Homo sapiens: one gene and its partners. The protein of the gene in region 3 interacts with the protein of the main gene of each other region in a pairwise test. Each region holds a gene or a part of one and is shown on either strand. Other genes may lie near its edges. The genes, in order: SCN2A, CAMK2D, CALM3 and IQCB1.

Region 1 (8,069 bases), on a different chromosome or scaffold from region 3:
CTGATTTAATCAGAGGAGATACTTCATCTTACAAACAAGGATTTAATTTCGAAAAACAGGCCACCCAAAGTGAGTTACACCAGCTTTGCTCATTATCATCAACCACCCTTTCTTCCTGTGTCAAGGAAAAGCATTTTCAAACCTTCCTTCTGTCTCTTCCACGACCTTGGTGTACTTTTGTTTCTTCTTTCCTCAATTTTCTCTCTACTGACTTCATACCTTACTCTACAAAGGGCTTAGGTTTTTCTAATCTGCACTAAAGTTAAATTTCCCTCAACAGTACCTTCTTTCTCCAGGTATAAAATGTTATCTCTCCTACCTTTCCCTGGCAAACTTCTTAAAACTTAAATATACTCCCCAGATTTCTCATGTCCAATTTAGTCCTCAGAGCCCCTGTCTCTGCCATTCAACTAAACCTCTTCTCTTAAAATTAATTTATGACCTAATAATGATAACTAAATCCATCATCTTTACTCTATCCTCTTATGAACCAACCCCTTTATGGGTTTTCTATTGTTTCTGATCCCTATTTTGATATTCAATTTACCTGCTTGGCCTCCTATGATATTGTTATTCCGTCAACTTCTCACATTATTTTCACACAATTTAATAATAGTTTTCTACACTTTTTTACTCTCCTAATCTTAAGATTATGCCCCCAGTCATCTTCACTTCTCTTTTGTTCCCCATTAATGTTTAATTATGTATGACCTAATTTTGTCCCACAACTGCATGCAGATCTATACATTCAGCCTTAACCACTAATCTGATACATGGATATAACATGTTCAGCTCCTTATAAAACACCCCAGTGTATGAGTATGTGTCAGTATGTCAAATGCATAACACCAAAAGCCAAATTCATTATCCTTACTTTTACTGCCCCAGGGGAAAAAAAATAACAACTGCAACAACAACACCGACAACAAAAGCTTCAAACAGATTGGGTTATTTACCTTTCTCTACAGTTTCCCTATACGATGCCTATAGTTCTCCATTTTCTTGTATTTACTTGCCTCACCTATGTACCTGGAATAAGCAACTTTCTGTTTTTCTTTATTTATATCCAACTCACTCTTAAAGATCTAATTTAACTGTCACATCCTCCTAAAATCTTTTCCTCTGAGCCCCCCATGGACAGAAATTAACATTATTGTTTTGTTCTGAATCCCAGGATGTAACATGGTGCCTGGCACAAGATAGGTGCTGATATTCCTGTCCCATTCACTTTCTCATCTTTCTTCATTCCTTATTTTGAGATATAGTGGTATCTGCACATGTATATTTGCATGTTAACCTCCCTGAGGTAAACTCCTTGACTAATTATTTCTTTATCTCTACCATGGACACTTGGTTGGTACGTGGTATTCCACAAATATATGTAGACATGACACATTTTAATCCCTTTCTTTTCTCAAGATATTGAAGAAGTAGGGTAAAGCCTGTGCCTAGTAAGTGAACAAAGGAGGAAAGGCTTGGACATGAGATGATATTCTTATAGTTGTCAATAGATTAACCTATATGTACAATCTTTTCTATTAGGTAGGAGGGAAAGCCATGTGGCCATCCACATCATTCATGAGCATAGGGTAGAAGAGTATACACCACCTAATAATGAAAAAGGCATACTAAGAAACAGAGTTTCCATAGTTGTCATTCAGTTTTCTTGGATGCTTTGACAAGAAACCTAAGAAAATTGAGCACTGCATATAATATGCCATTGAGCAACAGTATACTGAAAGAAACTCTATTTTACAGAATATAACCAAACACACACACACATGCACACACACACACACACACACACGCACAGTGAATATCATCATACCTGGTCTATGCCATCCTGATATGTTCACACTAGAGGTGAATTGTGTTACTGCTATGGAAGATGTGGAACTGTCAATCACTGTTCTAGCCTTGCCTTATTGTAATTTAGTACGTGACTCTGGGAAATCCACCTTATCTCTCAATTACAATTGCTTTTCTTTAAATGATAATGGGGATAAATGGTTAAATATCTGTAATTCTAAAAATCTCCATGTATATGGAGCCATGTAGAACTACAAACTCTATAGATTCCACACATTTAAAAAACATGTTTTTTTCATGGTTTGTCCAAACCATTTTATAAAATCATTCCCCATAGCTTTCACAACCTCTGACATGGCAAAACTACCTCTTTACAGGAAAACAATGACTGAGATAAAAACATCCTGATGCACCTCCACCGCCTGCCACCTCCACCATCACACACACACACACACACACACACACACACACACAGCTCTTTCCACAGGAGAAAGAAGTGAGGCATTTAAAAACAATCTTACAAAACTATTTTTAAAATATTTGTAAAATCTCTTTAAATTTCTCTAAATGAAAATCAGTGGTTTTTAAATATAGGATTTCTATATGTCTTTATTCCTGTTATTCTAATAATAATCAAGCAAGGATTTAAGGGAAATCACGAGAAGCAGCAGAGAGAAGCAAGGCTGTTGCATGCAACTTCCACCTCCTGAGTCATTCCACTCTTTAACACAGATAATGTCACATGACCTAAAATAATTTAAAATGTGAGCACCTTCTATAATATCAACTATTTAAAATGGCCACGGTTCTATTATCCCAAATCCAATAAAATACAGAAAAAATCAATTTTCATGGCAATTAATTTGTGTTCAGCATACTCCTCACATCCATACTGGGGGAGGAGGGAGGGTCTATAGTCTCATTCCAAGTCTATTAAACACATTACATAAATCTTGATTCATGTGGGAGAAATGACTTACGTATTATTTCTAAGAGGTAAAAATAAAGACATAAACAATCTGTACCATCATAGCCAGCAGAAATCGTTCAAAAGGCCTTTGGACTCAGAATATTGGCTTGCCTCTGAGGCTGCAATCAGAAGGCTCAGCCCTGAGCTTTGGCAGAGCCACTGCCATGTTAATCTGCTTCATTATATCTCTACAATTTGTTCACTGCATTAAGGAGCAGTATTTCCCTTGTGAAAGGAAAACCCATCCTTCACTTTGAAAGCTTTACCTTTAAAAGGTAAACAAATACAGCCAGAGACAGAGACCAACAGCTAGAAAGCCAAAGAAATAATAAAACACGGTATGTCATAGTCAGAGCTCATTTCAGCCTAGGAAGATTTTAAATTGCACAACAGCTAGAATTAGAGCTTTTGAATCTCTTAGATCTGAATACAAGCTAACAAAGCACACATCTTATATTAAATGTCATTCTTAACATAGATAACAATCCGTGGATAAGTCAAAAATAGAATCATGCTGGCTTACCTGAAATAAAGAAAAATGTAAATCATAACACAGAATCCACGTATGTGTTGAATATAACAGTCTCCAATGCAATTCTTCAGAATTTTTACTGGAGTAGAAAGTAAAATCTCACATGTGCTCTATCCTCATTAAAGAAGAAAAAAACAAGAAAGGATGACCACAGCATCCTCCCTCCTTTGCCTTAGCTTTCTGTTCTGACAGTCATTCGATGGTACCCAATGTCTGTTAGAAAACAGCATGCTAAATTAGAAAAATAAATAAATAAAGGCAGCATCTTACATGACAGCTCCATCTCCTGGTCAAAAGTGGAACCATCTTAATTCACGTTCCTTTGGCTATGTAGCAGTCAGCACATAAAATTAAATGATGTACAGCCCATAATTCCACTCTATTTGAAATCAACTACTTTAATTAACTGTAATTTAAACATTTAAGAAGAATTATAGTATGAATTTTTAGAATTATAATTCTATTTTGGGGATTCAAATTTCTTTACATTATGTTTAAACTAAATGGAAGCTTTTCCCATCATTGAAAACTTAAGATTTATTTAACTTTATATACCATCTGAAAAAGTAATATGTATCTCCTATAAAACAATTTTAGATGTCAAGCTTATTGATAATGAACATCACATCTCTTTGTGGAGAAGTATAAGTTTTTGTCACTAGAGAAGTTAACACATAACACTTGTGTTGCTATTGTTTGGAGGAATGTTGAAAGGTTAAAGATAAGGCAGGAAAATTAAATGACTTAAAGGCAAACTTGAAAAATCTTTAGTTAATCTAATCTAACTACAAAAATACAGACGACAAGTTACATGCAACATGAAATTTGATAATTGTAGTAGTATACTATAGTGTGTAGTTACATCTTCTTAGAGAGATAAGAGAAAATTAAATTGTCAAAAGAATCCATTTGGTAAATGACACCATTTATAGAATCAAAGTTTTACTGAGCATATGATGTTCTCAATATATGTTTGTTTAATTAATTATTCTTCTTATGAACAGTTGTGAAGGCCAGGATCATTTTTTTAAAATTTGAAGTAAAAGGATAGGCATTTTTTTTCTCCCACTTTTTTACAACACCATTTTAATTTGGGGCCAAATCGATCTTTAATTTCCTATTGCAGTAACGCTGTCCATGGTGCTGAGAACCAATTTTAGAACTCATGGTGAGTTCTAGGTCTTAAACGGGTCTGAAATACTGTCTTTGTCAGATTTGATATAAAATTTACCATTAAAAGTCCCCAGATCAGCCAGAATAATTGATAGTATCTAATATAAAAATAGTTAAGTAATTTTTTTATCCACAAAATATGTATATACACATGTCCATCAGAAGCCAAAATGCTGATAAATACATTTAATAAAATACATGATTGCAAGCTACACTTTCTTTGGATTCATAATATTTTATTTTCTGTGTGCTAAAGTTATACTGAATAGATTGCTTTAACATAAGGTTGTTCCCACACTATTAAATAGACGAGGAAACCAAAGCCCACTCTTCAGTAACTTATCCAGTATTAATAAGCAAGTCAGAAGAACAAACCCAGTTTCTTAAATTTTACCTTACTTCCATTTCTACAACATTATTAAGATGTATTAGTTTGGTTATGAAAATATATTTTTAACACTGAACAAATAAATAATTAAAGTGACTTGGTAGATCAAATTATTTTAATGTATACACTCAACTATTTCATCTCACAAGTTTCCTGCACTATCATAAGATACATAAGCTCTCAGGGCACATAATTATGATAATTTTGCCAAATTAATTTGCAATTTCAACAAATTACTCCTGATGGCCAAGAAGCTTAAACCTGTAAGATTAAAGCCTAAGATGCCACAAATATGAAATATTATTGATACTTTATTTTTAAAATCACGGGAATTTTACAATAATTTATATAAAATTTAAATGTTTTTCTTAACACAGTAATCATTTTTCCCCATAGTCTTGAGGGTAAATTTTATCCTTAGGGAAGATGTGACTAACTGATCCTGGGATTTTGTGTACCTCTAGGCACGCCACCTCATGCCCCCAGGGATACAATATCCCAGTTTCAAGACCATAGGGTTATATGACACAGAAACTGGAGCAATCCTTTTCAACCCTAAATCATATCACATACTCTTCTTCTCAAAACTTTTTAGTAGCTACCCATCTCCTTGTGAATAGTCTATGCCTTCCCCAGTGTTCACAATGCTCACAATCTAGACTCCTTTACTTCTCTGATGTTATTCTTGCCCTCACTCACTCTACTTTAGCCATTTTATCTTCTTTCTCATTACTCAAACATGGCAGGTATGTCCATTCCTTAGGAGGCGTCCACCTTTTAATCTCTTTGCCTGGAAATCTCTTACATGGGCTCCGTATGGCTCACTTCCCTCATTCTTGTCACAGCTCACAGCTGCCTTCTTACTGAGACTGGCCTTGACCCTCAATACCACACACTATCCCCTCCTCTGGTTTTTCCCTTTAGTATTTAGCTGACATACTAAATATTTTGTCTATTGTCTGCCTCCTCCAAGAAAAATGTAAATTCCATGAAGGCAGAGATGTTTGCCTGTTTTGATCACTTCCATAAACGTGGTTCACAGAACAGTACCTGAAATATAAGACCCACCCAAATAATGAATACATGTCCTAGACATAGAAAATTCATACATTTTTATTAATGCACCATAGGAATGCTATTATTTCTGTGTGTGGATTCCTATGTTCTTATTAATACATACGTCAGAGAGTGTGAAATCAATGAAGCAAATGGCATGTTCTTTGAGTAAACTATTTAAACTATGTTTAATTCATATACTTAAGCAGAAAACAGAACATATAGTGAATATTCCATAAATATGTTAGGTTAATGATGCCAGTGTTGAAATTAGACCACTGTGGTCTTGAATTGTTTTTAATGGAGTTCTGACAAAATTTTGGTAAAATATTATTGAACAACTCTTATGTTAGCACTTTTTTTTCCAGGATAAACAAACTTTGAGGTAACTATTGTAATTTTATTTTTATGGAAAATGTTTAATCTCATCTAGAAAATTTTAGCTGTTTTAAAATAAGTTGTAAAAATAGCAACATGTCACATGGTAGACATGTGTGCGTGTGTATACAAATATATATATACATATATACACACAGACACACAAGTACATACACACACTAAATCTTTATGAAATCAACTTCAGTTAGGCATTCATTTCGCTAGTAACAACAAACCAATGCCACATAATTTCTCAATAACATGTCTCTTGGGCATTGCTTTAATGATAAAATCCACACCTTTATTTTGGCAGCTTGATTTTCAAAATCATTTTAATTTATAGAGATAAAAGTAAGTAAGTCTTATTTTACCTCCATTAAGTTGTGCATATTGACTGTTATTTAATTTTTTTCTACCATTTATCATTCACCCAGACTTTTAAATATCATCCATCTGATTCAGAAAATAAAAGACTAAGTTCCTAGTTTATACCTAATATTTGTTTACATTTTTCTTGCCTCACTTCTTCTTATTTAAAATATCTGCATTGGAGAAAAGCAAATGAACAGACATTTTTAAATGGCAATTTCATTTGTACAGTTTTAGTCACCTTAAAATATGCTAACCTCTTTTAAATTATTGGTCACCAACATCAAGACAGTTTTAAAAAGTTGAACTCCATATCTAATGTTTTTCCTGCACTATTATCATTAGAGAATCAAGGACCTGTAAGCCAAAATGGGCATATTTTTATGCCATGTTCAAAGACTGCTAATACTGATGAGGAGGACAGCTTATTACACTAGTTCCAATTAGTATGAATTGTTGACATTTAATAGTATGTTATCAAAAGATGAAGAAAAGGAAAAGAAAAATTGGGCCATCAAAAGGACATAATTTCCATAAACAAAGTCTGACAAACAGAATAATTCCCATAATTCCTTGAAAGACGAGGTGTTACAAATAATGTTATAAATATATAACATTTATTGAGCACTTTTTATGTGCCAAGCAATGTGCTAAGTACTGTACATAAATTATCTCATTATTCCCAGCAACAGGTCTGTGAAGTAGATTTTTATCTTTTCCCTCTTAGAGATGAGAAAAATAAAGCCAAAGTCCCTCAGCTAGTAAACGATGTCTTGACCTCCAACTCAGACCTCTGTTCTCAATGCTTATGTTCTATTTGAGTTCTACTTAAGACACAGGAGATGTAAACTATGAAGAAGTGATTCCGTTGACCTTTGGAATTTATGTGCTTTTTGTCCTCAGCTCCAGTTGTTCAACAGTTGTGTAAGCCAAGGGTAAAACAAGAGTGGAAAAGAAGGAAGGTCTTTAGGAGTACCTCCCTTCAGTGTGGTATTTCAGAGCAGGTGATGGATTTGCAATGGATGCAAGGATTGACAGAAGAAGATAAACAGAAGGAACTAGAGTTATTAAGGAAAATAAATTGTCAAGAAATTAATGAGTGAAAGAACAAGGCAGAGAGGTGAAAGAGAAGTGCAGGACCCATAGAGCTCTGCCAGAGACCCTTCTCTTCCCCGAAGATGGCTGTCTGAAAGAGAGCAGCATTCCATGATCCCCTGAGCAACAAGGAGTTCTCATCTACAAGGCTCACATGATCCTGTTACCAACACCAGAAATACACTAATGCTAGCTGGTAGCACCTTGCTGAGGGTAACTGAAATACACAAAGGTTGCCCTGACATTTCTCATCAGTAGGTCTACCTTTATTGTGGAGTAAATAACTCAATATAGCATGA
Region 2 (8,099 bases), on a different chromosome or scaffold from region 3:
GCCAGGAGCGGTGTCTCACACCTGTAATCCCAGCAGTTTGAGAGGTTGAGACAGACGGATCACCTGAGATCAGGAGTTCGAGACCAGCCTGGCCAACACGGTAAAACCCCATCTCTACTAAAAAAAAAAACAAACAAACAAAAAACAGAAATTAGCCAAGTGTGGTGGCCGTACCTGTAATCCCAGCTACTGGGGAGGCTGAGGCGGGAGAATCACTTGAACCCAGAAGGCAGAGGTTTCAGTGAGCCGAGATCGCGCCATGGCACTCCAGCCTGGGCAACAAGAGCGAAACTCCATCTCAAAGAAAAAAAAAAAAGACATTTGTGGTTGAACCTATACTTATATTTGACTCTTTGAAAAGAACGTCTTCTTGCCTTTTGCTTAGAAATTATCCTATTATTTTTCAATAAATTAATATTATAAATAACTGCAAAAGATTTTCCATAGGAAAAAAATCATTTAGTTAGTCTTTACATTAACAAAAAAGCTTTAACTGCATATTAAACATGACCAAAAGTGTGGTTGAGGCACATATTCATTTAACTCATGTTTCCCATACCTAACAATAAAGAATGGCTCACCCAGACAGAATGGCCTTCATCTGGAAGAGATGATGGTGTGTGTATGCTGTGTATCTGTGTGTGAATGTGTGTAGGTGTGTGTGTGTGGGGGGGGGAACATGTGCACTTGTACAGATAAGTTTGTGTGCACAGGTGTGCAAGTGGGACATTTTCACTAAAATAAAGCAGTTCTTGGCAACCACATCCTAGAAAAAAGTCAAGTATCATATCCCAAAATAGAAATAAAAGTATCTCAGAATATTTCTTTCATTTGCATTCACTGATAAAAACTAAATATAGCATATTAAATACATGTGGTGCTTTAACCATAAGTGCCCCTGTTCATTTGACAGGAAGCCGGCTATGTTTTGCCTAGCATGTTTCCCGAATAGGAAATTATTCGTGTGTGCATCCCTCCCCTTTTCTCACGTACCCTGTACTAACATAAATACTGAATTTTGATCCCTCTTTAATAGACTTTTTACCTCTTATCTCTTTGGCTCTTGCACAAATATCATGTTAAATTCTGTGCACTTTGATTTAAAGGAAAAAAAAGGTTTTAACTATCTGCAGAATATAGATTGATGACAACATTTATAGAATTTTCCAGTAAAGGAAAGTTTAGAAGTTTTCTCATCCTTTTCTGTGGGTCAAGCAGCACAGTGTCACAACTTATTGTAAAAATAACGATACCAGTAATCAGACAAAAGGGAATGAAAAGAAAGGAAAAATATTACATATTTAAATTAATTTATGTTACTTTCTATCTTCCTCTCAATACTAGTTTTGACAGGATATATAGTTATCAGATATAGACTTCCAGAAAACCCGAACAATTAAACTGGTGTCACCACTTGAAATGCTCATTTGATACTCATTTATTTTATATAGTATATGTTTCTCTTTACATCATTATCTATATTTATATTAAAATCATGGAGGTATATTCCTTTAGAAAATAATAAATAAAATACCTAGATAATATAGTATAAGAAAATGAACGTTACCTTACATTTTTGTTTGAGAACCGTAATGTAAGTTGTCATGCATGAGTTTAAAAGAATGTTGATTGATTATTATTTTTCAGTCCTTGATTCTTAGTGCCCCGACTCAGTTGTAGTTTCTGATTGCCACTTGTCTACAAAGAGTCTTCTCTGTGGACCGTTAGAACACTTATTGACCCTCTGAGTTGCTTTTACCACGCAGCTTCCACAGTGGTAATGATATATTCTTTAAAGTCAAATCCAGTTATGTTAAAGCAAGGGAATGATATTACCAAATATATTCTGCAGTGATAGCAGTAGCACATTGACAGAAAATGTAGTATTTTCCTCTTACACAACTGTAAAAATTAAAGTCCTTTTACATTCAACATAAAAAGTTTGATTTCCCCACTAATAATTGAAGATGTAATTTTTAGAGGAGATCTACACTTGTCATTTTTAAAAGCTATTGTGACACCAGCGTTTTCTCAGAAGATCTAAATTTTCATTGGATAATTTAATTGCTCCTAAGCAAAGTAATGCTGGATCCCCAGAGAAAGATGTATGTGTGTGTGTGACTTCAGGCTCAAGAATAAAATGAGGGAAGAAAGAAATATATTTATAACTGTGAACAATTGGAAGCTTGGAAACAGAATCCAACTTGAACAGTATGAGAATGGTTATATTAATTTCATACTCTGAAACCTGATTGGAGCTCCACTGAAGCAGCTCTTTGTTTGCTAAGGTGGCATAGCAACAGCAGACACGTCTGTTTTCTCATTGCACCATCACGGACATGGTCCAGCCTGTGTGTGACCATCGGAGACTAGCGATCATCATTCCTGTCAGTCATCACCATGTCTTTCACGTTCATCTTCAGTGGCTCTTTATCTTCATGTCTACATCTCTATGTAGACATGCTGCATCTAGAGACATTGGCTACCAAGGGGTTTAAGGCATCTCTGTTTCTATTTTCTGCATACCCACAGATAAACAACAAAGCCAACGTGGTAACCAGCCCCAAAGAAAATATTCCTACCCCAGCGCTGGTATACCTGGACTCTTTGTAACCCTTCTTAAGTTCTTTACATTTTTTTTTTTTTGTGGTTTCTCTCATTTGCTTTCACTATATAGATACATATATATAAATATTTTATTTCGTTGGGTGTTGGGTTTTGTTTTTTTTTTTTTTTGCTTTCTATGATATGACCAAGTTCATTTCTTTTGGTTTTTTTTGGTTAAGTTAGTTGTCAAGCAGTGTGTTCTAACATGAGATTATCTCATTTCGTTGTTGAACATTGTACTGATAGCTGTGGTCTCTGTAGTTGGAATTACTGCATGCTGCATTCAAAATACAGCGCTTTGGTTGCTCTTAGCTCTTCTGATGATGATAGTTCTAGATTATGCAAACAATGGTTTCTTCTTTTCATGATGCAAATGCTTACATCAAGGAGAGCTAATGGGATTGTTGCTAGACAACATGAAAGTAGACCTTATTCAGAGTTCTCGTTTCCCTCTTATTAAAACACAACAGGGCTTTGTAAGACTTCACTTTCTGAGATAAAGAGGCACTGGATAATTTAGAGCTTTCTGTTTATTATGTTTTAAATTAAATTTTCACTGTTTCACTTTAATCCAAAGAATGAAACTGCAAAGAATAGAGGTTTGAATTATCAGTGGAAACCAGTTATGTCTATCTCAATCAAATCCACACAATTAACGACTAAATTAGTCTAACACTTTGAGATGGTATTATGTTAAAATTCAGAATTTGAATACTGTCATTCAGTGCTGAGTTCCATAACATTTTCCCTAAACTGTTTCATATTTTGATTTATGATTTTCAGAAATGTTTTTCAATTATTTGCTCTTCTCATACTGTTATTTTAAATAAATTTAAAAATGTTAAGGAATCATTTCACTTGAGTTAACCATGAGGCTCCATTTAAAAACATTTAAAAGGAGGACACATCAAAATAACAGGTTATCTACTAGTAAAAAACAATGTTGATCACAGCTGTAGCCAAGGGAAAGGGAGAATGGAAGCAGGAGATATGTCTCTCAATATTACAGCAGTGTAAACTGTAGTGGTGGGGGAGTGTCCATGATTGAGAACTCCCAGTGGGTTGCAGTACCTCCCCATTGCCAAGATATCACACAATGAAAGTGCCAAGCATGTCACTGATGTATGCATATTGAATCTTTTTTTACATCAGTTATTTGAATGTTATTCTCCACTTGGGAATATTTCTTTGCTTTCTGATAGAAAACAATAGAAAACCCATACTTTCTTCATAAAAAAGCATGACTTTATAGCCAGATATCCTGTATATATAGTCCATAAAGTAGAAGTTTTTTAGATATGAATTAATACAGGATTTAATAGCAGTATGCCTCAAATTATAGTGATTACATGATTAGTTCTAGATTAGTAGATTAGTTCTAGTTCATGATTAGTCCCTTAAACTTTTTAAATGTTCCTTAAAATTTTTTTATGGTCTTTTGAAATGGATTCTTTAGTATAGTCTTTTTTTAAGTGTTGTCCAATGGCTCTAGATTTTATAAGGGTATTCAGTTACGTATTAATTAATGACACCATAATCGAGTTTCAAACCAATATAACTGAAAAAATATCTTCTCTGAGAATTTGAAATCATCTCAGAGTTTTAGCTCCAGTGTCCTTGGCCAGTTCTCTATGGGACAGACGTTCACAGGCCACTCATTAAAGAAGAAAGGAAAGCATAGGATTAAGTGAAACAGTGAGTGCCTCTTCAGATCTCTAAATATCAAAGCCTTGTTTGAATGCTGATCAAGAATAAGGTCTTTTGCATGCTGCTTCTGGGTAGGGAGGTTCCTATCTCATGGCCTCGCCAGGGAGATCTTTCATCAGAGATATTGTCAGCTGCAACTCTGACAGCAGTTAACATCGCTTTAGCTCTTGTCACTATTTCATTTTGTCAGCTGGCTCACTCTGCTCTGTCCTTCACACTAGAAAGAATGTACTTACCAATGCGAACTGTTTCTTTCTCTATTTTGTTCTCACTCAGGAGCCCCAAACTACTGTAATCCACAACCCTGATGGAAACAAGGTATTCAGAAAGAATCAACATCATCTTGCTTTAACAAGACTATACATCTCATCAAATATTCAAAAAAATTAATTCGTTATCTAAAAATAGGAAAGAAAATTCTAACCATTTTCTACCACACTTCCTTTTGGGCCTAATTTATCTAGAACTATGGACATACTTCTTGCAAATAAAAATGAATGACATCTTGAAAGAGAAACTAATGTTACCATGAGTCAATAAAAGTCAGGCTAAACATGAATGAAGTCTTTATGTCAAGATGACTGTGTGTCTTAAGCAATTCCATCTGGTCATTTTTTTCCCCATGACTTTGTGCTTTGTACTGTAGATATATTGTGCATGATATTTTAGAATTTCTGGCAATATTCCATTGTCTTCAAAAATATCAACTTGACTTTATAGGTTTTTTTTTTTGTTTAGTGTTACTTTTGAGTTTTATTCTATTCTGTTGTCAGAGTGGTGTTTTTTTTTTTTTTGGTTTTTGGTTTCTTAATTCCTTGTTGGTGATGATGTTGTTATTGTTGTTATTGTTGTTGTTGTTGTTGTTGTTTGGCATGAATTTGAGGTGAATCAAGGAGTTTCACTTTTTGTGAAATATGTTTGTTGTTGAGTAATATATATTCCAGTAACAGGGGTTTAACTACTTAGGTTGAAAGAAGACTAAATGTTTCCTATACATTGTAAATTATTTGTATAGCATGTTAACTAAATAACAGCACTAGCATACATGTCTATAGGATGAAAGACCTTTTCTGAATGTATTCCATGTGTCCAATTTCTTACTTTTCATATATTATTATATCTCTAAGGGAAGAAAAAATACTAAACTTTTCTCAAATATTAGATATAGTCATGCATCTTCTCCATACTCTTATCAATGATGTTTAAGACTTAGAAAGCACATTTTATCTTAAGACTCAGAAAACACATTTCCTCTCTGGTTTAACATTTAATTGATCAATATTAAAACCATTAAAGTAAAAAACATGAAGTGTTATGTTCTTTAATATGAGATTTATTTTATAGTCATGACACTGCAAATGGTCTAGGTCCCGAAAAGCCTTGAGGTAGTCAGGACCATCACATATGAGAACAATTTTTTTAATAGCATTAGCCAATGAAACGCCAAGCATAACAGCTGGAATGGACACTTCAGTAGTTCTAGCTATATCATTTGTAAGAGTTGCTGCATGATATTTCTTGCTGACATGAATTAGTTTAATTTTACAGTGCATGGGTTTACCTTCATTTTCAGCTTACATTTGAATACTAGGTCACATTAAGAAATGCATGAAGATTCCTTTCTTTGGTTTTGTGTGTATGGAGACTCTGGGTACACCTTTAATTAGTTTTTCCCTTGGTTTAAATATTGTATATGATATTTATATAAATTGATCACTTTTTTGAATACTGAATCTCTAAAATGATACTGGCTGGTGTTTACATTATTTTCCAGAATCTGTTTTCCATTACTGAGCTATTGATTGGAAGTTTGTTTCCAGTTATTTTTGGCTCTAGCATTTAATCATTCCAAGTAGAAAACTATGTCTTTCTTATGAATATTGCAAAATTTATTTGCTAGAAAATATTTTACTCATACATTATTAATGAGCACATTTATCACACCATTTTAAGAAATGTATCTTAATTCTGGCAGTTACAGTGTACTTTTAAGTGTGCTTAACAATCTTCCACTTAATTTGTAGTTTTACAAAGAAAGAGCTTTGTCTTTTTATTATGGAGTAGGTTTCTTATCAATAACAGCCAGTTGCTATTTTTGAAAAGAATGAAAAAAGTCTAATTGTCCTTGAAAGTAAATTATTCATTATAATTCCATTGTGCTGAGGACAAACATGAAAATTCTTCTCAAAAGTACTTTCAGCATATCTCAGCTTAACCCCCTTAGCTTCTTCATTAAATGATGCGGTGAAATGCTTTCTCTCCCTATAAAGGTGTAAGGCATACAGGCCTTAACATAGTGCCTGACGCAAAGAAGGTACTCTTTATTGATTAATTAATTGGGAATAGAAATTTTTTCTATTTTAAGTATCAAATTCATTCGGCTAACATATTCAATTGCTTGTAGACACACAGAAAAAGCAAACCTTATAGGGCACTGTAACACAAAACACATCCTTACACAGTTTCTAAAATAAACTGCATACTTCCGCTGCTTCTACAAATCACCTGGATTTATACAGCTTCGGAGATTAGGCAACCAGAGTACTCCGTTTGAAATGTTTGCAGCATCAGACATTTTATTTCTGTTAAAAACCACTTAATGTGTTTGTCCATTTGCATGTCAGCATATGCACATAGCCTGCTGAAGAATTTTGCATGATATGTATGTCACTAGCCAATTTTTAAGGAGGAAATCAAGCTATTCATTGCGTGCAACCTAAAAATGTGTTTTCTTCTCATCAGGAGTCAACTGAGAGTTCAAATACAACAATTGAGGATGAAGATGTGAAAGGTATGATTTAACCAGAAATGGAAAATCCTACCTCAGAGCTTCACATATATATATGAAAAAAAAAGTGCTTCAAATAACTAATAAGTTTAGGAAGTAGGCCTATCCTAAAGCACAAAAATATTTTATTTATGAGTAAAAAATATTTTTATAAGTACATAATTATTTCAACAATATGTTACTTTTGTCATTTTTCCTACATATTCTTTTATATATTTTGAACTGTAGACATGTAGCATATTCTAGCACATTGCAGTAATGACAACTAATAATGAGTTACTAGTTATAGGAACATAACAAATTGTAAATTTGTCAGTCAAAAAGTAATATAAAATGTATACACATTGGGTACATTCATAAAACCTATCTGGAAAACAATTTATATTCAAGGATACAGTATAAAAATAACTTTTTAACTTTTAGTCATCTCAAATAATATCAGTAGAATTTTCTATTTGGCCGCCTTTTTATCCTAGCTTTTTGTGTACATTCCAAAGGTATTCTTGACCTCCATTCACTTTGGTTGCCAAGGTTCTTTTAGCTACATGTATGAGTCATTGGTAGTGTTTCTACAGACATCTTCTCAGTGCCCCTGCACACACATACTGAACACACATTTGCAGTTAGGTCACCTCCTTTGGCCACATCACTGTTTTAGAAGTATTACTTTTGTATCAATTGCATTTGCAGTTTTATGTTGTTTTTGTAATTCATTATATATAACTACAGTCTCTATAGACCAGTTGTCTAGAAGATATTCTGACAAACAGCGGTAACAGTAGGATATTTGAAACAGAAATATTAAAGGAAAAGAAATATAAATTGGGAGCAATGATCCATAAATTAATTAAACCTCATCTGAAAAGATTACTGACCTAATAGTATCACCATAAGCTTTAATTCTAAAGGTAGTGTTAATACAATAAAGTCTTGTAAAGTTGTATTCATATTTTAGAATAAAGGATTTGGAAATTCTCAGGTCAAGGAGACGTGGGGT
Region 3 (8,052 bases):
CCCCATTCCCCCGAGGGAGAATGAGAAGAGCCCTTGAGGATTCTGACCCATCCCTCCACTATAGCCCCACTGGAATGGGAGGGTCTTGCTATGTTGCCCAGGCTGGTCTCAAACTCTTGGCATCAAGCAATCCTCCTGCCTCAGCCTCTCAAAGTAGGAGGATTACAGGAATGTGCCACTGGGCGCTGTTGAGGCGGCTTCTTCCTCACATCCCCACTTGCCACGAGAAAGTTGAGCTTTCTGTGGTTTGTAATTTGGCTGTGACCGCATAGTGGTTTGTACTCTGCCTTGTGTGGTTTGCAATTGTTTTGGGCTTTTTGTTTCAGATCTTCAAACCAACACTGAGTCCCGTGCCCTCCCTGTGAGCTCAGGACCATGCCTTTCTCACCACTGTAGATCCAAACTTGGCATGTTTTGGCTGCCTGTGAGACTAAAGCAGTGAATGCCACCCCTCTCCCCAAAGCATCAAGAGGCTCACCCACTGCAGGGCCTGCCCCTGCCTTCCTCTCTTCACCCGGCTGGGCTCCAAGCTGCTCGGGGCTCTCACCCAGTCTCGCTGGATTTCCTTCAGTTCCTTGATGTCTGGGCTTCTCTTGCCTCAGGGCTTCCATACATGTCGTCCCCCCGAACTGGAATGCCCTTCCGTCCTTCCCCTACCCGGCTAGGGGACTGCCCATCTTTCAGGTAGGTCTCAGCTCAGTCCTGCCACCTGACTGGGCTGACCCCTTCTCTGTGTGCTCCCATGGCATGATGGGCCTGCCTCAGAGGAGCCTTCTCAGTCCCCGCCTTTCAGTCCATTTGTGCGACTATCTCTAGGACAGGACCCTGCCGTTGATGACCCTGCGATCTAGCTGGGATCAGAACTGTGGTTCAGAGGCGTCCACTGGGCTGCACTGACTGGACACAGCTTCAGAGCCAGCTTTGAGGAGAGGCTCTTCCACCTCTGGGCCAAAGGAGTCAGTGCTGGGGTTGGTGTGTATGTGTGTTGGAGGGGGGCAGGCCAGAAACTGAGACAGGAGGAGAGGAGCCAAATCAGGTAGTCACTGTATTTTATTGGAAAACATTGATATATATTTTTCTTCACAGCTTGAACTGAACACAATATTGCCCGGTTTAAAAAAAACAAAACCAAAACATTCCGAAAATGTCCACAGCCTCACGCCTACCTGCCCTTACCCTCAGCTCTTGGCTGGGTCTCCCACTATGCCCCATCCCTCCTTCCCTCAGAGGCTGGGTGCCAGAGGGTGGATGAGAAGAGATTCTCAAAGCTGGGCAGGTCCCAGGAAAAGCCACTTGATCGACCTGGGCAGTGAGGGGAAGCAGGGGGTGGGGGGTGGGGTGGGGAGGTGGTGGGGGGAGCCAGATGAAATGAACAGAAAAGGGGAAAAAACCCAGACGACTGAACTGCCCACATTGACTTACTTGTCCCAGAGGCGAAAGTCAGAAGCAAGGGCACGGATCATGCTCTCCGCTGGGGGAGTATGGGGGCAGGCAGGTGGGCGAGGGAAGAGGCAGGGAAGAGGGCACGGAGCACAGATGTGAGGAAGCGGCGCCAAGTCACCACGGAGAAGCGGGAGGTGCTGGCGGACCAGGACGCAGAGGCTGCTGTAGCTGCCGTCCCCTGGGCAGCTGGCCGACAAGACTGTTTTATTGCAGGTGCGTTCTCTTGAGAGCGTGGTGGGGCCCATCTTCCCTCTCCCCACCCTTTAGCTAGCCCAGCATGGTTCTGAACAAAATGAAAGTCTTAAGGGCCATAGAGGGGAAAGAAAAAAAAAGAGAACCAGCACATTACAAAGCGACCATCCCCACATCCATTCCTAGGACGGGCCCTCAGGGCGGTGGGTGCATCGTGAGGAGGGAGCGGCATGGGATGTTAGCACCAGGTATTTACAGAACAGCTCGAGAGCGCTTCAGGAACGCGGGCAAGTCCAATTTGCAGAGTGGCCAAATGAGCAGTCCCCACCCAGCCAAACCTCAGAAAGCCAATCAGATGGTTTCAGAACAGCAGCCAGTGGGATGTGAGTGTTGCCCACTGTCAGTCCCCTTCTGTGAGTTGGCCCCCTCGACCCCCTCCTGGGCCACATCCAGTCAACGCCACAATTCCTCAACGCCCCCTCAGTCCTTCTGGAATGCCTCTCTTGGCACCCCTGCCCCAACAGGCTGCTGGGATCTGCACGTGGAATCACAGGGCTGGTTGCATGCAACGGCAAAGGGCATGCTCTTCTGCCTGGGGGAGGGCCTCTTGTCCCTCCCAGCAGGTCCCGGGACAGGGCTGGCAGCCACCCCAGCACCCAAAATAAGATGACAAACAAGAGGAAACAAACCAAAATGGAGGAGAGCCATCCGGGCTGGAGGAGGGCAGAGGCTCCCCAAGGGGATCTGGGGAGGGCTTCAACTTATGAATGCATCAGGCCTTGGAAGACATGGATGGAAGAGGCGAGGGCAAAAGGAAGAGATGAGGGGCATGGAGAGAGACTCAGGGAAGAAGGAGAAAGAGCAATCATGCAGCTTGGGACAAATCTTTTGTTGCTTTATCAGATTCTCAGTCAATCAATTGGTGTTTGCTAGAACCGGGGTACGCAGGGGAGTGTTGAAGAGAGAGTGCGCGCGCGAGAAGAGAGAGATCAAGAGAACGGGCATCGCCAGCTGCCCGGGGGGCCTTCACTTTGCAGTCATCATCTGTACAAACTCTGTGGAGTGAAGCAGAGAGAGAGGAGGTCAGGCGGGCAGGCTAAGTGGCGAGCGGCCCTCCCCAACAAGAGGGATCTGGGGGCTTGTTCCTGAAGCTGCGATTCTCTTCTTGTTCCAGAGATCAAGCCTGGCCTTGACTCACCTTCATAATTGACCTGGCCATCTCCATCGATGTCAGCCTCCCTGATCATCTCATCCACCTCCTCATCGGTCAGCTTCTCCCCCAGGTTCGTCATTACGTGACGCAGCTCTGCGGCGCTGATGTAGCCATTCCCATCCTGGGGGTTGGGGATAAAGCCTTTCACTGGGCACTTCTCCCGGTGGGGAGAGAGGCAGTGAGAGGGGTGGCTGTCATCACCATCCCTCAGCAGTGAGCACAGTGAGGGAGGCTGCCTGAGGTGGCAGAGCAGGTTGGCAATGAGGCTGGCACCGGGACCCGGACCTCCTGGAAGTGGTAGCTCCGTGGCTCCAGTTCCGCCTGTCTGCCTGAAGGCTGGCGTCAGTCTCAGAGCCGCCCCTGGAGAGGGCTGCTTACCTTGTCAAAGACACGGAACGCCTCTCGGATCTCCTCCTCACTGTCTGTGTCCTTCATCTTTCTGGCCATCATGGTCAGGAACTCCGGGAAGTCAATGGTCCCGTTCCCTGGAAGGTGGGGAAAGGATGGAGAATGCTCTTGGCCTGGGCCCTGAGAGACACGGGCTCATCCATCACCCTGAGAGAGGCTCCCTGCAGTCACTCGGGGTGACCAGGAGCAGGGCTGCCCACGCGCTCTGTGGGGCTCACCATCTGCATCCACCTCATTGATCATATCCTGCAGCTCTGCTTCAGTGGGGTTCTGTCCCAGGGATCTCATCACTGTCCCCAACTCCTTGGTGGTGATAGTGCCATCTCCATCCTTGTCAAAGAGGGAGAAGGCCTCCTTGAACTCTGGGGGAAGAAGGGGGAGGAGTCAGAGGTCACAAGGTCCACAGGAGAATCCTTACCTCTGGATGCTGGATGCCTTCCCTGGAGGAAGGCCAAGGGCATCAGTCCCACCTAAAGAAACTGAGACAGACTTCAAGTCCCACGCAACCAGCTCTCTCTCCTCAGTGCTCAGGGCAAAGCCCTTCCAACCTTCATTCAACAGTTATTGAACATCAACACTGTGCTAGGTGAAGCTATTTTTCTGGCCAGCCAGTGAAGACAGTGGGGAAAATGGTCTGACAGCTGTCCTTAGATGATTCTACATTTCTGTTTGGTCCCTGGCTTTGACTTCTCCCTTGAAATGATGAAATGAACCAAAGTCATGGAGTGAATGAGAGCCGAAAGGATTCTTTGTCTGAGTGTGTTAGCCAGGGTTGGCTGGCTGGGACGAGGAGGGGAGGCTGCAGAATGCCTCTGGCCGGCCTGAAGAGGAAATGCAGGCATCCACTCCCTTCTGACTGGCAGCCCTGTTCCTTGCCGTGGGTGCTACCAGCTTCCAAAGGAGCTGAGCCACTGCGTGTGGTGAGCGTGGGGGTGGTCGGCAGCAGAACATGGCTGACGGACAGTGCGTGGGGTTGATGGGGGGATGGAAAGCGAGGGGACGGCTGCCAAGCCAGGAGGATGAGGAGCTAGCAGTGCTGAGTGGGAAGGCCACAGCTGGGGCCGCATCAGGGGCAGGGAGAAAAGCACATGGCTCTTGCCCTCCCACTGGGCCCATTTTGGCACCTGGTGCTCCTCTACCCCCAAGCCCTCCAAAAACAGATGTCCGGCAGCCTATTCCCAGAGGGTGTGGGCTGGGGTGAGGCGGTGGACAGTTTGCTAATGGGGACAGGGTGAAAAGCAGACCGTTTATGTTGCACAAGGCCAGAGTTGGGAGATGGGTGGCAGGTGCATTGGGAGGGACATGCACAGCTGGGAAGCTGTGGCCCTGAGCCTCTGGGCCCTGGGGACATGGCAAGAGTCTCTTTGGGGAGGCTGGCACCTCCCTGTGCTGAGGCCTTGTTGTTCTTGGGGAGGGCAGGTAGTGAGTGGGTCATGGGGCACCCCGAGCTCATGATCACTAAACCAGGCCATCTTCTGGCTTTCCTCAGGGGTCTCCATAGCCACCCAGGGCCAAAATTTTGAAGCTGCAAAGGTGACTCTGTGATGCGGGTTGAGGGGAGAAAGGAGAGAAGGCAAGTCCGTTCCTGCCTCCCACCGCAGAAGCTGGGCCTTTAGTACTTGTTACACAGCCGGTTGAACCTGACAGCAGAGCTGGGGGCTGGGTAGCTGGTGGGGAGCAGAGGCCCATTCTCTGGATCGCTACTCTGGTCTACTGTGTGCTGGCCCCTGGCTATGGAGATAAACCAAGAGTTGCTCTCTGTCCTCGGGCAGCTCAGTATGGGCGGGTAGGCAGGCACGGATCTGTAATTACACAATAGTTCCTGTAGCTGACCCTTCTGGGGTTTTGGAGGGGTTAGAAAAATGAATTAGATGGGATCCAGGGATTTCTTCTAGCTTGCTGAGAGAGAGATGTTTGTTTAGCCAGCAAAAGTTTGCGGAGGACCTACTACGTTCTAGGCAGGCATTAAGGCTATAGCAGGGACCAACAAAACCAAGTCCCAAACTCAATGGAACTCACATCTAGTAACAGGAGATACAACAGGTGAAGACATAAGAAAATAATTTCAGACAGCGAGAAAGGTTATGAAGAAAATAAAGTGATGTGAAGGAGAGTAAAGGAAGGCTGTGTACTTGAGATGGGGGTCAGGGAAGGCCTCCCCGAGGGGACATCTGAGCTAAGGGACGGGAAGGAGCTGCCCATGCAAAGCACTGGGGAGGCACTTCCGCCAGCAGAACAGGCAGGCGCAGGCACATGCGAAAGGAAGTGCAAAGCGCAGGCAAGCGCAGAGGTGGGAGTGACGAGCCAGCTCCTGGGCGGCTCCTAAAGTGGGACAGGAGCTCTGCAGGCCCCACAGGGAGGCAGGGAGCTCACCTTCTAAGCCAACCTGGCTGAAGCTGGGAGAGAGAGTTGGGCTCGTCCTGCAGCCACTGATATCAAGCCCCTAGATGACCCAGGCCCAGGAGAGGAACACAGCCTTTGGTGTCTGGTAAAGGCCTGTCTCAGGGCCATGGGGCTTCGTGTCATTGGGGCACTGGTGTGCTCTTACACACATTTATCAGCATTCTAGGCACAAGGCATAGTGTTAGGTGACACAAGGGATACACAGGTTCACCCATCAGATGTCACTCCTCAGTGGCTAAGATTTGGCTGGGGATGTGGAGGCTTTCCTGAGCTAAGATGAGGGGGATAGCAGACTCACCTGCAATCTGCTCCTCAGTCAGCTGGTCAGCCTGTAAAAGCATGAAGGGGAAAGTCAGTCACCAGGCCGGACAGCACGGACGCATCTTCCTCACTCAGCCCAGACCCTCGGCCCCAGTGAGGCCAGCTCCACGTGCCATTCCCGCCGGGCCAGGGAGGAGCATGCCAGAGTCAGGGTCTGAGGCAGAGCCAGCGCCTGATGATAAAGTCTGGTGATTCAGAAAGCTGGGTACCAGGGTGGGCTGGACACTCAGGCCTGCTGGACGCACGGCCCGATGAAGCTGCCCAGACCCACGGGCTTCCAATCTCAACTCAGCATGTGGGAGCCACAGGGGCGGGAGAAAAGCCTGCCCCAGCCCCAAACCAGCAGCGCTGGTGAGGCCTGGCACAGGTTTGCATCTCATCAGTGAGAGCCCCAGAGGCCGAGTGAAGGGAACGATTGCCCTGGAGGCCTCATCAAGAAGCTCTAGAAGGCTCCAAACTGAAGCAGGCCAGTCCTTGGGTAGGGCAGAGGGACGATGTCTGGGGCTATCTCTGCTAGTTTCTGTGTCACCTATTTGGAGGCGGTTGGCTCAGGCAGAGTCCACCCAAGTGGCAAAAATTCTCCTAACCGGCGGCCCGAGTTGCTCAAGCACCTAAAGAACTCTGGTCAGGCTGGAGGCAGGCGCTCCACCCCCTGCGCACAGTGAGGGCACAGGGCCATTCTGTTTTGTTTCTTTTGGGCAGAAGGGACAAACGTCAGGGAGAGGGCTGCAGCGGGCAGCAGCAGAGGACTGAAGCTGGCTTGCACTGCAGTTTTTAACCCTTTCCAGCTTGGGCACTCTGGGGACTGGCCAGTGGGTGGCAGGCAGCCCTTGCTGCATGCGGGGTTTGGGGGTGGGGAGGAGATGCGGGGACTGGCTTCTCCTGCACTGGTGTGCTGGGCATCAGCCAGGCATAGTGATCCTATGGGGCAGGAGCGGGGCTGGGGGGTTGGGGAGGCTGAATCCCAACATTTAGCTTTAGCAGCCAAAAGACACATTTTCCCTGGTTTTTGTTGATGCTGTGAAGAAGGCACCACCATCCCGGGACCATGGTGGGTCTGTTCCCCTTCCTTTCACAATCAGGGAAAGGGGCTCCAAGTCTATAGCATGTTCTAGTCTCGAGTCTGAGAGCCTCAGAAATAGAAGCAGACTATTATGTGAATTTGCAGTATTCTACGGAGAGGTTCCAGAAGCTAGGAACAAACCACTGCCTGCCTCCCCTACCCCCATCCCCGTCCCAAATATTAACAATCACTGATCTAAAAAAGTTAGAAAAAAAAAAAAAAAACCTAACGGAAGAAGAACTTGCAAGCCCCAAATAGGCAGAATGGGAGGGGTAATCAAAATGATGATCACAGAGGGGAGAGGGCTTAGGGAGGGGGAAAGAGGAAGGGAGAAAACGGCACACATGCACATTCTGGAAAAGTCCAAAGTGTAAAGGGGAGGTGGGGAGGCCAAATGAAGATTCTTCTGCATTGCCTTCAAAAAAGACAGGGTGGTTGGGCTTCTAAATGCCAACCTGGTAGCCCCAGGCCCATGAGCCTCTTGATCCACCTGCCCCCCACCTCCCACCATGGACAAAAAAGCCTGGAGCCATCCCTTAGGTCCTGACACCTGAGGAAGAGGCTTAGGGAAAGTGAGAAGGGAGGATGGGCTTCTGGTTACCGAGACCAGGCAATGCCCAGGGAGGGTCAGGGAAAGAACAGAGAGGAGGGCAGCAGTGTGGGGAGGTGGCTGCCATCCCATCTGCTTTTCATTCTTTCCCCTGGCCTAGAATGGAAAAAGCGAGCCAGGTCAGGGCCTTCCCAGCCCACTGTTCCGCCCTGCAAGAAGTCCAGCTCCCCGGACCTTTGGGCAGCACTGTAAGGGGCTGGGGGTGGGGGCGAGGAGGCTGTGACAGGCTGCAGACTGCCCCGAGCGGCTCTGAAGGCCACCGTTTGCCAGTCTCCACCAAAAGACTGGAAGATGCAGATGAGGCACTGCCATGTTCAGTTCTGTCACAGGGTTGCTGCAAATAGGCGTGGCTCTGCATGGAGGGCCTGTCAGATGCTCTCCCTCCCATGTTGGAGACCC
Region 4 (8,099 bases), on a different chromosome or scaffold from region 3:
AATTTTGCTCTAAGAGCTTAGGAGAGTAGGTGAAGATGGAGACCAGATTTGAGACTGCTCAGCACTCAGCTGAGAGTTGAGCTGCAGTTATGGATGGATACCCCAGGAAGAGAAAAATGACAGGAATAAGGTGAGGATGGAACCCTAGAAAACATCTATATTTAATGGAGATGAAGTGAAATAAAGGGCTAGTGAAGGACCCTGGATTGAATAACAAGAAGACAGGTAAAATAATTTGAAGATAATATTGAAACCACTAAGACCTCTCAGACCACATCTTCTTATTAATTTCAGCTTAGTCTGTCAAAGGCGGCAAGAAGATGTCACAACATTTGTACTAAGGAATGAGTTAAACTCTGATGGCAGAATGTAATAATATTCCAACTCCTTGTTTCAGTTCAAGAAGTATCTTTGTGTCTCTAACAGCTATCTTTATGCATACATTTTTATGTTTCACTAAATTATCTGAAGGATAAGAAAAAAAACTGGTGGGGAGATTGTTCATCGTCAACTAATAGGTCTGAATTGAAAAAACAGTAACCGTTTTTGAACTCAGAAGATCTAATAAAGTTTATCTGAAAAACAGAGAAAAAGGACAAAAGTCCAAATTTAAAAAAAAATCATCACGTAGCTAGAAAAGTTGGTTTGTTAAAAGATAACCTAAATATTCTTATATTGATAAAGTTGATACTGCCACTCACCTGGATGAACTATTTCGAGCATACTCAGCTGCAATTCTCGGGAAAGTCTCATGGCTCTCTGTCTTTGAAGTTGCAATTGTAATTTGAGGTCCTCTTCTTCCTTCTGCCTATTTATCTCCAGCAACATCTTTGATCGTTTGGATCTGTGATGGAAACAGTGTGTTATACATAATTTTCATAAATCATATGAAAAAATGCATAACCTCACTAGTAATCAAATAAATGTAAACAGAAAAAATTTTAAGATAATTTCTAGTGTTAATAAGGTATGATAAAATAGCTTGTCATCTGCTGCTGTTGTGCAATCTTTCTGTAGAAATATTTGAATATATGCATTAAAAGTCTGGAAAAATATTTGAAATATATAAATAAAAAGCCTTAAAAGTGATGACCAATTAATTCTATTACAAATAATTTTCTTAAGGAAATAATCAGATATATATGTAAAAATTTATGTTCAAAAATGTTCTCCACAGTATTACAACAGTAACAAGTTGAAAACAAACTTTGTCTCACAACAGCGAGTTGGATAAACAGATACTGGTTCATTCACCTGATGGGATGGGATTCTATGAACTATGAAAACATAAAATGTTCGAAGAATATTTAGTGACATGAGAATATACTGATGATCTAATGTCAGGTAAAAGGAAAATCAGGATATAGAAGAATGACATCAAAATTGTGTCAAAAAACTTACATTTACTTACACAAAAAAAAAATAAAAAACATTAAAATTTCAAGTGATTTTTACTGCATGATGTAATTACAGTTGATCTTTATTTTCTTCTTATGCCTATTTCTCAATTATTGACAACTGAACATTACTTTCATAACTGGTTATGAAAATTTTCATGTGACCACAAACATTTTATATAATTATAATTTCTGTATTATCTGCTTTTATTCACCAAAATTTCTCCTTAGCCATTCCCATCTAGTTTTTGTTGCTTCCAATATCACTATGTAAGGAGACTACAAGTGTCAGTTTACAGTAAATATACTCAAAATGCTTTCAGACACCCACAGAAAAAGAAAACGAGGATAAGAAGAAAGGCAGAATAAACTACTTAGTTTACCGCTATAGACTTAATTTGACATGTGTCTCCCTCAAGAACATTTTCTCTTAGATCTTTTTTTTAAACTGTATTCTTAGAATTAAACTGTAAACAAATGTGGTACCTTGGCTATAGCTTTGTACTCTTAATAGTCAGACTTCATTATAGTATAGTTAGGATTATTATGATTTTTCAACTGAATTTTCAACTCAAAATAGTTTATTTTGATTTTGATAAAATTTTGTGTGCCTGTGGTTGTTTCTCATAAATTCTTCCATCAATTACAACTTAAATTTTCTCTAGCTTTCTACTTAGGGCAGAGTAGAGAATTTATTTGTTTTGAAACTTCTTTCTTATCCCTATTATCAAGGGTAGAGAAGACCTCAAAAGTGTATGTGTGTCAAAAGATTCCAGAGAAGATCTAGGGCTAGTTGAATAGTTCTAAGTGTCTCTTGCTCTTTGTGAAAGCTGGAAATGAAGTAGGTAAGGGCCTCTCCCTTCCCAAAGAATAGCTGATAGCAACTTGCCTGTTCTACAGAACTCCATCACCTCAAAACTTCTGGGTTATACAGCATGCAGATAATAATGTTTTATCTCTTACCCATTCATAGAGGGTAAAAGAGAGCAGGCCCTAAACAGAGCCTCCTTTTAAACTGATTTTTAAAAAACTACCTCTGTGGCCGGGCGCGGTGGTTCACGCCTGTAATCCCAGCACTTTGGGAGGCCAAGGTGGGTGGATCACCTGAGGTCAGGAGTTTGAGACCAGCCTGGCCAACATAGCGAAACCCCATTTCTACTAAAAATACAAAAATTAGCTGGGTGTGATGGTGTGCACTTGTAGTCCCAGCTACTTGGGAGGCTGAGGCAGGAGCTTGAACCTGGGAGGTGGAGGTTGCAGTGAGCCAAGATCGTGCCACTGCACTCTAGCCTGAGTGACAGAGTGAGACTCCGCCTCAAAACAACAACAACGACAAAAAACTACCTCTGTTTCTAACTTCTAATTGGCTATAGATTATAATGTCTAATACTGCATTATCAATATTTTAAATACCATTTTACACTATTAGTATGAAAAACATAGTAATCATTAAAATTGCATCTGCTAGAATATTTAATCTGTCAGAAAACTGGGTTTGGGAAACAATTTAGGCATGTAGGCTATCAAATATGGCAAAAATGAAAAGACTATGGAGCATGAAGGTGGAAGTAAAGTACAAACCAGAAAGACAGGACAAAAGTGAGATTTGGGCCGGGCGCGGTGGCTCACGCTTGTAATCCCAGCACTTTGGGAGGCCGAGGCGGGTGGATCACGAGGTCAGGAGATCGAGACCATCCTGGCTAACACGGTGAAACCCCGTCTCTACTAAAAAATAACAAAAAAATTAGCCGGGCGTGATGGCGGGCGCCTGTAGTCCCAGCTACTCGGGAGGCTGAGGCAGGAGAATGGTGTGAACCCGGGAGGCGGAGCTTGCAGTGAGCCGAGATTGCGCCACTGCACTCCCGCCTGGGCCACAGAGCAAGACTCCGTCTCAAAAAAAAAAAAAAAAAAAAAAGTGAGATTTGGTGATTTAAATAGGGACTAAATTGTAAACAGGTGTGCTTATTGGATTCATATGTTTTACTTTCATATCTGAAAACATTTATTAGGAACTGAAGTGATTTTGAATGTAATTCCCCCATTTATTATTAAATAACATCGAGTTATTTTGTTCAGAGTTTCTCTAATCACTCAAAAATCAAACAATTATTCTTCCAACTGGTTTCTTTGTAAGAATTAGTAGGCACTGGACCACCTGGCATCTGTACTACACTTCTGAAGATGAAATGACTGATCAGATGTCATATTCTGAAATAAGTAAATTCCATGATTTACATTTAATCAATCTGAATTTTTACCATTAAAGTGGGAGTTGACCAAATTTTCTGCTGCCAAGACACTGTGCCTCAGAGGGAGAGAGAGAAAAAAGATGCTATCTGCATTTAAGAAGCTCAGTTTCAAGATGAAATCAACAAATGTAATTAAAACACTTAAAAATCAGCACTATGATAGAGGTAGGTAAATTGTGAGGTTTCTCTAAGATAACTAGAGCAGCTGTTAGCCGCTTCAGAAAACCTTGCTGAATAAGAGTACTTAAGAGACAAAGTTTCTGAATACGAGAAATGACTAAATAAAAAAGAAACCACTATGAAAGTGCATTAGCAAGGGCGTGACTATAAAAGAATGCCTCTTGCTGAATCTAAAGAACACTAATCAACCTGGACCCATAAGTGTGACCAGTGGGCAGTCTCTCTCCCAAAACCATGGGAAGGGGAAATTACTGAGATAAGTCCTGAGCACAAAAAGACAGAAATAACCTTTGAAAAAAAACCAAGCTACAAAGGAAGCAAGAGACATTTGCATGAACTGTTACAACTAATAGAAGAGCGAAGGTGCTGAACTGGAGAAAACTGAAAATTAAAAAATTAAATAGAATCCAACAGGTTAGAACCGCATTTCAGTATATTCTGGAACCTCAAATGCAAAAATACTGGAAAGGCAACAAACACAAAATGTGAGACTTAAATAATTTTTGCTTCACAGCTTATCTTTTTAATGGAAGTATTTATAACTCTTCTGGTTACATAAAGAAAGCAATGGAATTTCTATTTTAAAATAATGGAATATTAGATTCCATAGATACACTTCTAAGTAGAAAAAAATCTGTAATCCTGGGCTACTTTTAAATAGAGATTTTAATATTGAAAGAGAGAGTATATGAGCAAATTTGGGAACTCTTGTGGGACTAAACATTAATGCTCTGAATCCATGTATAAGGGTACCCTTAAATTTAAGATGACAGGTAACTAAGGATGATAGCAGGTGGAATCCATAAGTAATACCTACTCTATCTGAATTCACCACAGAGGCAATACCAAGAGCACCTCAGATGCTTTGGGTAGAAAAATATACACTGTGACTCAAAAAGTACTCAATATTTCCCAAATTTATCTAACCACAGAAATGCTTTTAAAAAAAAAACAGCTTGTAAGATAGGCAATAAACTTTGAGTAATAATAGATGGATAATACTTGCTTCTCATTAGTACTACCTATTTAATGCATCTATTTGTTTACCTAGATTTGTAAATTTTCAAGGACAGAAAATGTGCCATATGCATTTTTCCTTCTATCATTTTTTAAGTGCCAGATAATATGCTAAAAACTTTGTATTATCTCAAATTTTACATTATCTTGATCATACAAGTGTATAAACTATTATTCTCATTTTATAGATTGGAAGTTTGAGGCTGAGAGAGGTGGGGGATTGTCCAAGTTCACTCAACCAGTAAGCTGCTCAAGTGAGATACAAACTCGAATCTGTTAAATGCCTAGTACATATATCATATACTAGGCATTTGATATATATTTAAAAATTAATTCTTTTCTTTGCTACCAACAATATTCATGCCCAATAATATTTAAAATCCATCTTTAATTCTTCCCTGAAGAAAACGTTCATCAATTAATAGGATACCCACTAAGAGACACAGTTAGCTAGAGTGATTTCAATGTCTTCAACTCTGTGACTACATAGTATTTTGAACCCCAGAGCTATTTTTAAATGTTTTTATAACTGAGAAATGCATCTGCAGTTATTAAAAGAATAGTTTCAGTTTTCTTTAAAGAATTAACTTCTGTAAAATGCCAGTTTCATTTTAGCAAACTAAAGCTTGGCTTTAAGTTAGGCTGCATGAAAAAGTCACCTCTGAAACAGATCTTCTTTACCATAAATTACCTAGAAGCTAAGTTATTTTTTCTTGTTCTGTGACCTTGGAGGATCTGGATTGGTTAAGTCATTGCAGAAAGTGGGCTATGTCTTCAGTATTTCCTTTTCAGTCTACTTGAAATAAATGCCGAACTATATCATAATTCAATGAAGATATCCATCCATGCCATATTTATTCAGGAAAATCAGGTTAACAGACTTAAACTCTTATACGCATACATGTTATTGTTATAATTATACACACGAAATTATGATAACTGTTGGTTTAGAGGGTTTAATAATATAACTATCATTGGCTCCCTTTGTAGGCTTGGCCCCTCCCCAAATATCTTATTAAGTGGATAGGATTGCATATTTGACACATCAGATTCCTGTCTTACATCCTTTGCTTTGAAAGTGCATCTGGTTACTGGAGTGTTGGTACCCAGAAACGTATGGAAAAAAAATGAAAAGATAACAAGAAACATACTAGGAAATTAAAAAAAAATCACCTAAATTTCAATTCAACTGTACTCTAGTAAGATTCTATGATCATCAATCCCCTCACCAAATTTTTTTACCTGAAACTCCTCTGCAAAGCAATCACAGCAGATGGAAGCTTCTTTAATCTCTTTCTTGTCTGAAAACCCTTCCAATAGGCTTGAATCAAGCATGCTGCTTGATGTAGTTTCTGAAATGCCGAAAATAATTTAGAGATATCTCTAGGAAGGTCTTTAAAAAAAAAAAAAAGTTTACCTCTTAAAGTATCAGGTTAGGGCAAATATTAATCTCTAGCTCTAACAAGATGGGTAAGAATATTAAACCTTACCTCCCAAAGGAGGTATGTTAGGCTTGGTAAGGCAATTTCTAGAACATACTCAAGATATAGTCTAGTTAGCTCCAAATTCTCCCAGAATAATCTCACTTCCATTTCCTTTTCAAAGATTTCATAGTCCGCCTGACCTTTCATAATCTTTTTTGAGCTAACATGTTAATGTTTTTACTTAATAGGCAATCAACCTAGTTAGGTTCAAACTATAAGCTCTGTTGACCATTGTGGATGGTTGCTCGAATCTCTGTTTAGTTCTGTAAGCTTTTGATATGCTATTCTCCTGATAGACCATTGGGCTTAAAAGGTCAGTGAGCTGTCTGAGTTCTTGACTGAATTCTGTCCCAGTCTCCTGTTTACTTAATAGACTTCTGAGTCCTCAAATGGAATGGCAAAGGGTACAACTATTAATAATAAAATATAGTTTTATGATTTTGTTACCTAATCAATATGAATTTGAGCATATGCATAGTTTTGAGATTAATCTAAACTCACGATGGTTCATATATACAGAAAAAAGGAATTCCCTTCTTCTGCACTCTTCCTTCCAGCCTCCCCCAACCCATTCTCCTGCCTTACTGGACTTATTTTCATGGTTTCTGCTTGTATTTTTAAATTTATTGTCTTTTTGGTTTTGGATTTTGGATATACAATGTCCCCTTTTCCTTTTAAATTAAAAAATATCTTTAGTCATTTTAGATGTTTTCCATATTTAAGTCTTTATCTGGAAATCAGAAAGCAATATGCCTCTTCCTGTTGAATGGGCTATTTAGAGCCATCATTTTGAGTATGCTAGAGGAAGTATGATGAAATAATCAATAACTTGCTGCCTCAAATTTCTAAATAATTTTATTAATACCATTTCTTACACAAAGGAAAAGGCATTATTGTTGTATCTCAAAGAACAAGAAGGGTAGCCATAGGTAACCATAAATACAGTTTGCTACAATTAGAGATTTTTTTTGGAAAAACAGTTTTAAAAGTTTAAATAGCTTATAGATAAAAGAAGATAAACATCAGAGATGGGGCTTTCATGAGAAATGATGAATGAAACTGATGTGGCAGTATTTATAAACAGATGTAAATGGGAGATTGAAATTATGTTTTCCAGCAGATTGAATGGCGGAGAGATACAATTTTGTAACATTATATTTTAAAGATGGGGTTTTGCTATTTTGACCAGGCTGGGGTGCAGTGGCTACTCATGGGTGTGATCATAGGGCAGTCTCCAATTCCTGGACTCAAGCAATCCTCCTGCCTCAACCTCCTGAGTAAAAAATTTAAAGATATTTCTGTTTTGGGGGTATTTTGCTTGAAATCTTAAGAGAAAGAAAGTGAGGAACATTTAAGGAAAACTAAGGTTTAATATAGTCAGCAAATATCATGCAATTTTTTTTTTTTGTAACTTAATACCTGCTCTTCTACTTCCTGATAGACCATTGGGCTTAAAAGGCCAACAAGCTGTCTAAGTTCTTGACTGAATTCAGTCCCAGTTTCCTGTTTACTTAGTAGACGTCTGAGTCCTGAAATGGAATAGCAAAAGGTACAACTATTATTATAATAATAAAATATGATTTTGTTATCTAATCAGTATTAATTTGAAGCTAAAAAGTCTGGCTTAAAAACAAATGAAAACAAGATTAATCATATGATTTTTCTTTTTCCTTTTCTCAGAGAATTCCAGGTTGAAATCTTTAAGATATTCCTCCCTCCTGAGAATTCTTACGTGCTCAATTGTGGTATCTGATAAAAAAAAAAAAATCTGT

Evidence for each region.
Region 1: the proteins of CALM3 (region 3) and SCN2A interact in binary tests that used the Homo sapiens proteins (3 or more experiments, as listed by UniProt).
Region 2: the proteins of CALM3 (region 3) and CAMK2D interact in binary tests that used the Homo sapiens proteins (3 or more experiments, as listed by UniProt).
Region 4: the proteins of CALM3 (region 3) and IQCB1 interact in binary tests that used the Homo sapiens proteins (3 or more experiments, as listed by UniProt).

Annotation. Positions count from the first base shown.
Region 1 is NC_000002.12:165,234,874-165,242,942, reverse strand, and holds the start of SCN2A (sodium channel protein type 2 subunit alpha), read right to left. Parts: upstream 3,530-8,069; 5' UTR 3,303-3,529; intron 1,884-3,302; exon of another isoform or gene 1,829-1,883; intron 1-1,828. UniProt on the Homo sapiens protein: Mediates the voltage-dependent sodium ion permeability of excitable membranes.
Region 2 is NC_000004.12:113,499,469-113,507,567, reverse strand, and holds part of CAMK2D (calcium/calmodulin-dependent protein kinase type II subunit delta), read left to right. Parts: intron 1-2,532; coding exon 2,533-2,592; intron 2,593-4,590; coding exon 4,591-4,632; intron 4,633-7,056; coding exon 7,057-7,105; intron 7,106-8,099. UniProt on the Homo sapiens protein: Calcium/calmodulin-dependent protein kinase involved in the regulation of Ca(2+) homeostatis and excitation-contraction coupling (ECC) in heart by targeting ion channels, transporters and accessory proteins involved in Ca(2+) influx into the myocyte, Ca(2+) release from the sarcoplasmic reticulum (SR), SR Ca(2+) uptake and Na(+) and K(+) channel transport.
Region 3 is NC_000019.10:46,603,763-46,611,814, reverse strand, and holds the end of CALM3 (calmodulin-3), read right to left. Parts: intron 5,989-8,052; coding exon 5,958-5,988; intron 3,992-5,957; exon of another isoform or gene 3,619-3,991; coding exon 3,475-3,618; exon of another isoform or gene 3,334-3,474; coding exon 3,227-3,333; exon of another isoform or gene 2,970-3,226; coding exon 2,834-2,969; exon of another isoform or gene 2,810-2,833; intron 2,718-2,809; exon of another isoform or gene 2,691-2,717; coding exon 2,662-2,690; 3' UTR 1,033-2,661; downstream 1-1,032. UniProt on the Homo sapiens protein: Calmodulin acts as part of a calcium signal transduction pathway by mediating the control of a large number of enzymes, ion channels, aquaporins and other proteins through calcium-binding. Calcium-binding is required for the activation of calmodulin.
Region 4 is NC_000003.12:121,789,372-121,797,470, forward strand, and holds part of IQCB1 (IQ calmodulin-binding motif-containing protein 1), read right to left. Parts: intron 7,857-8,099; coding exon 7,747-7,856; intron 6,196-7,746; coding exon 6,086-6,195; intron 845-6,085; coding exon 702-844; intron 1-701. UniProt on the Homo sapiens protein: Involved in ciliogenesis. The function in an early step in cilia formation depends on its association with CEP290/NPHP6.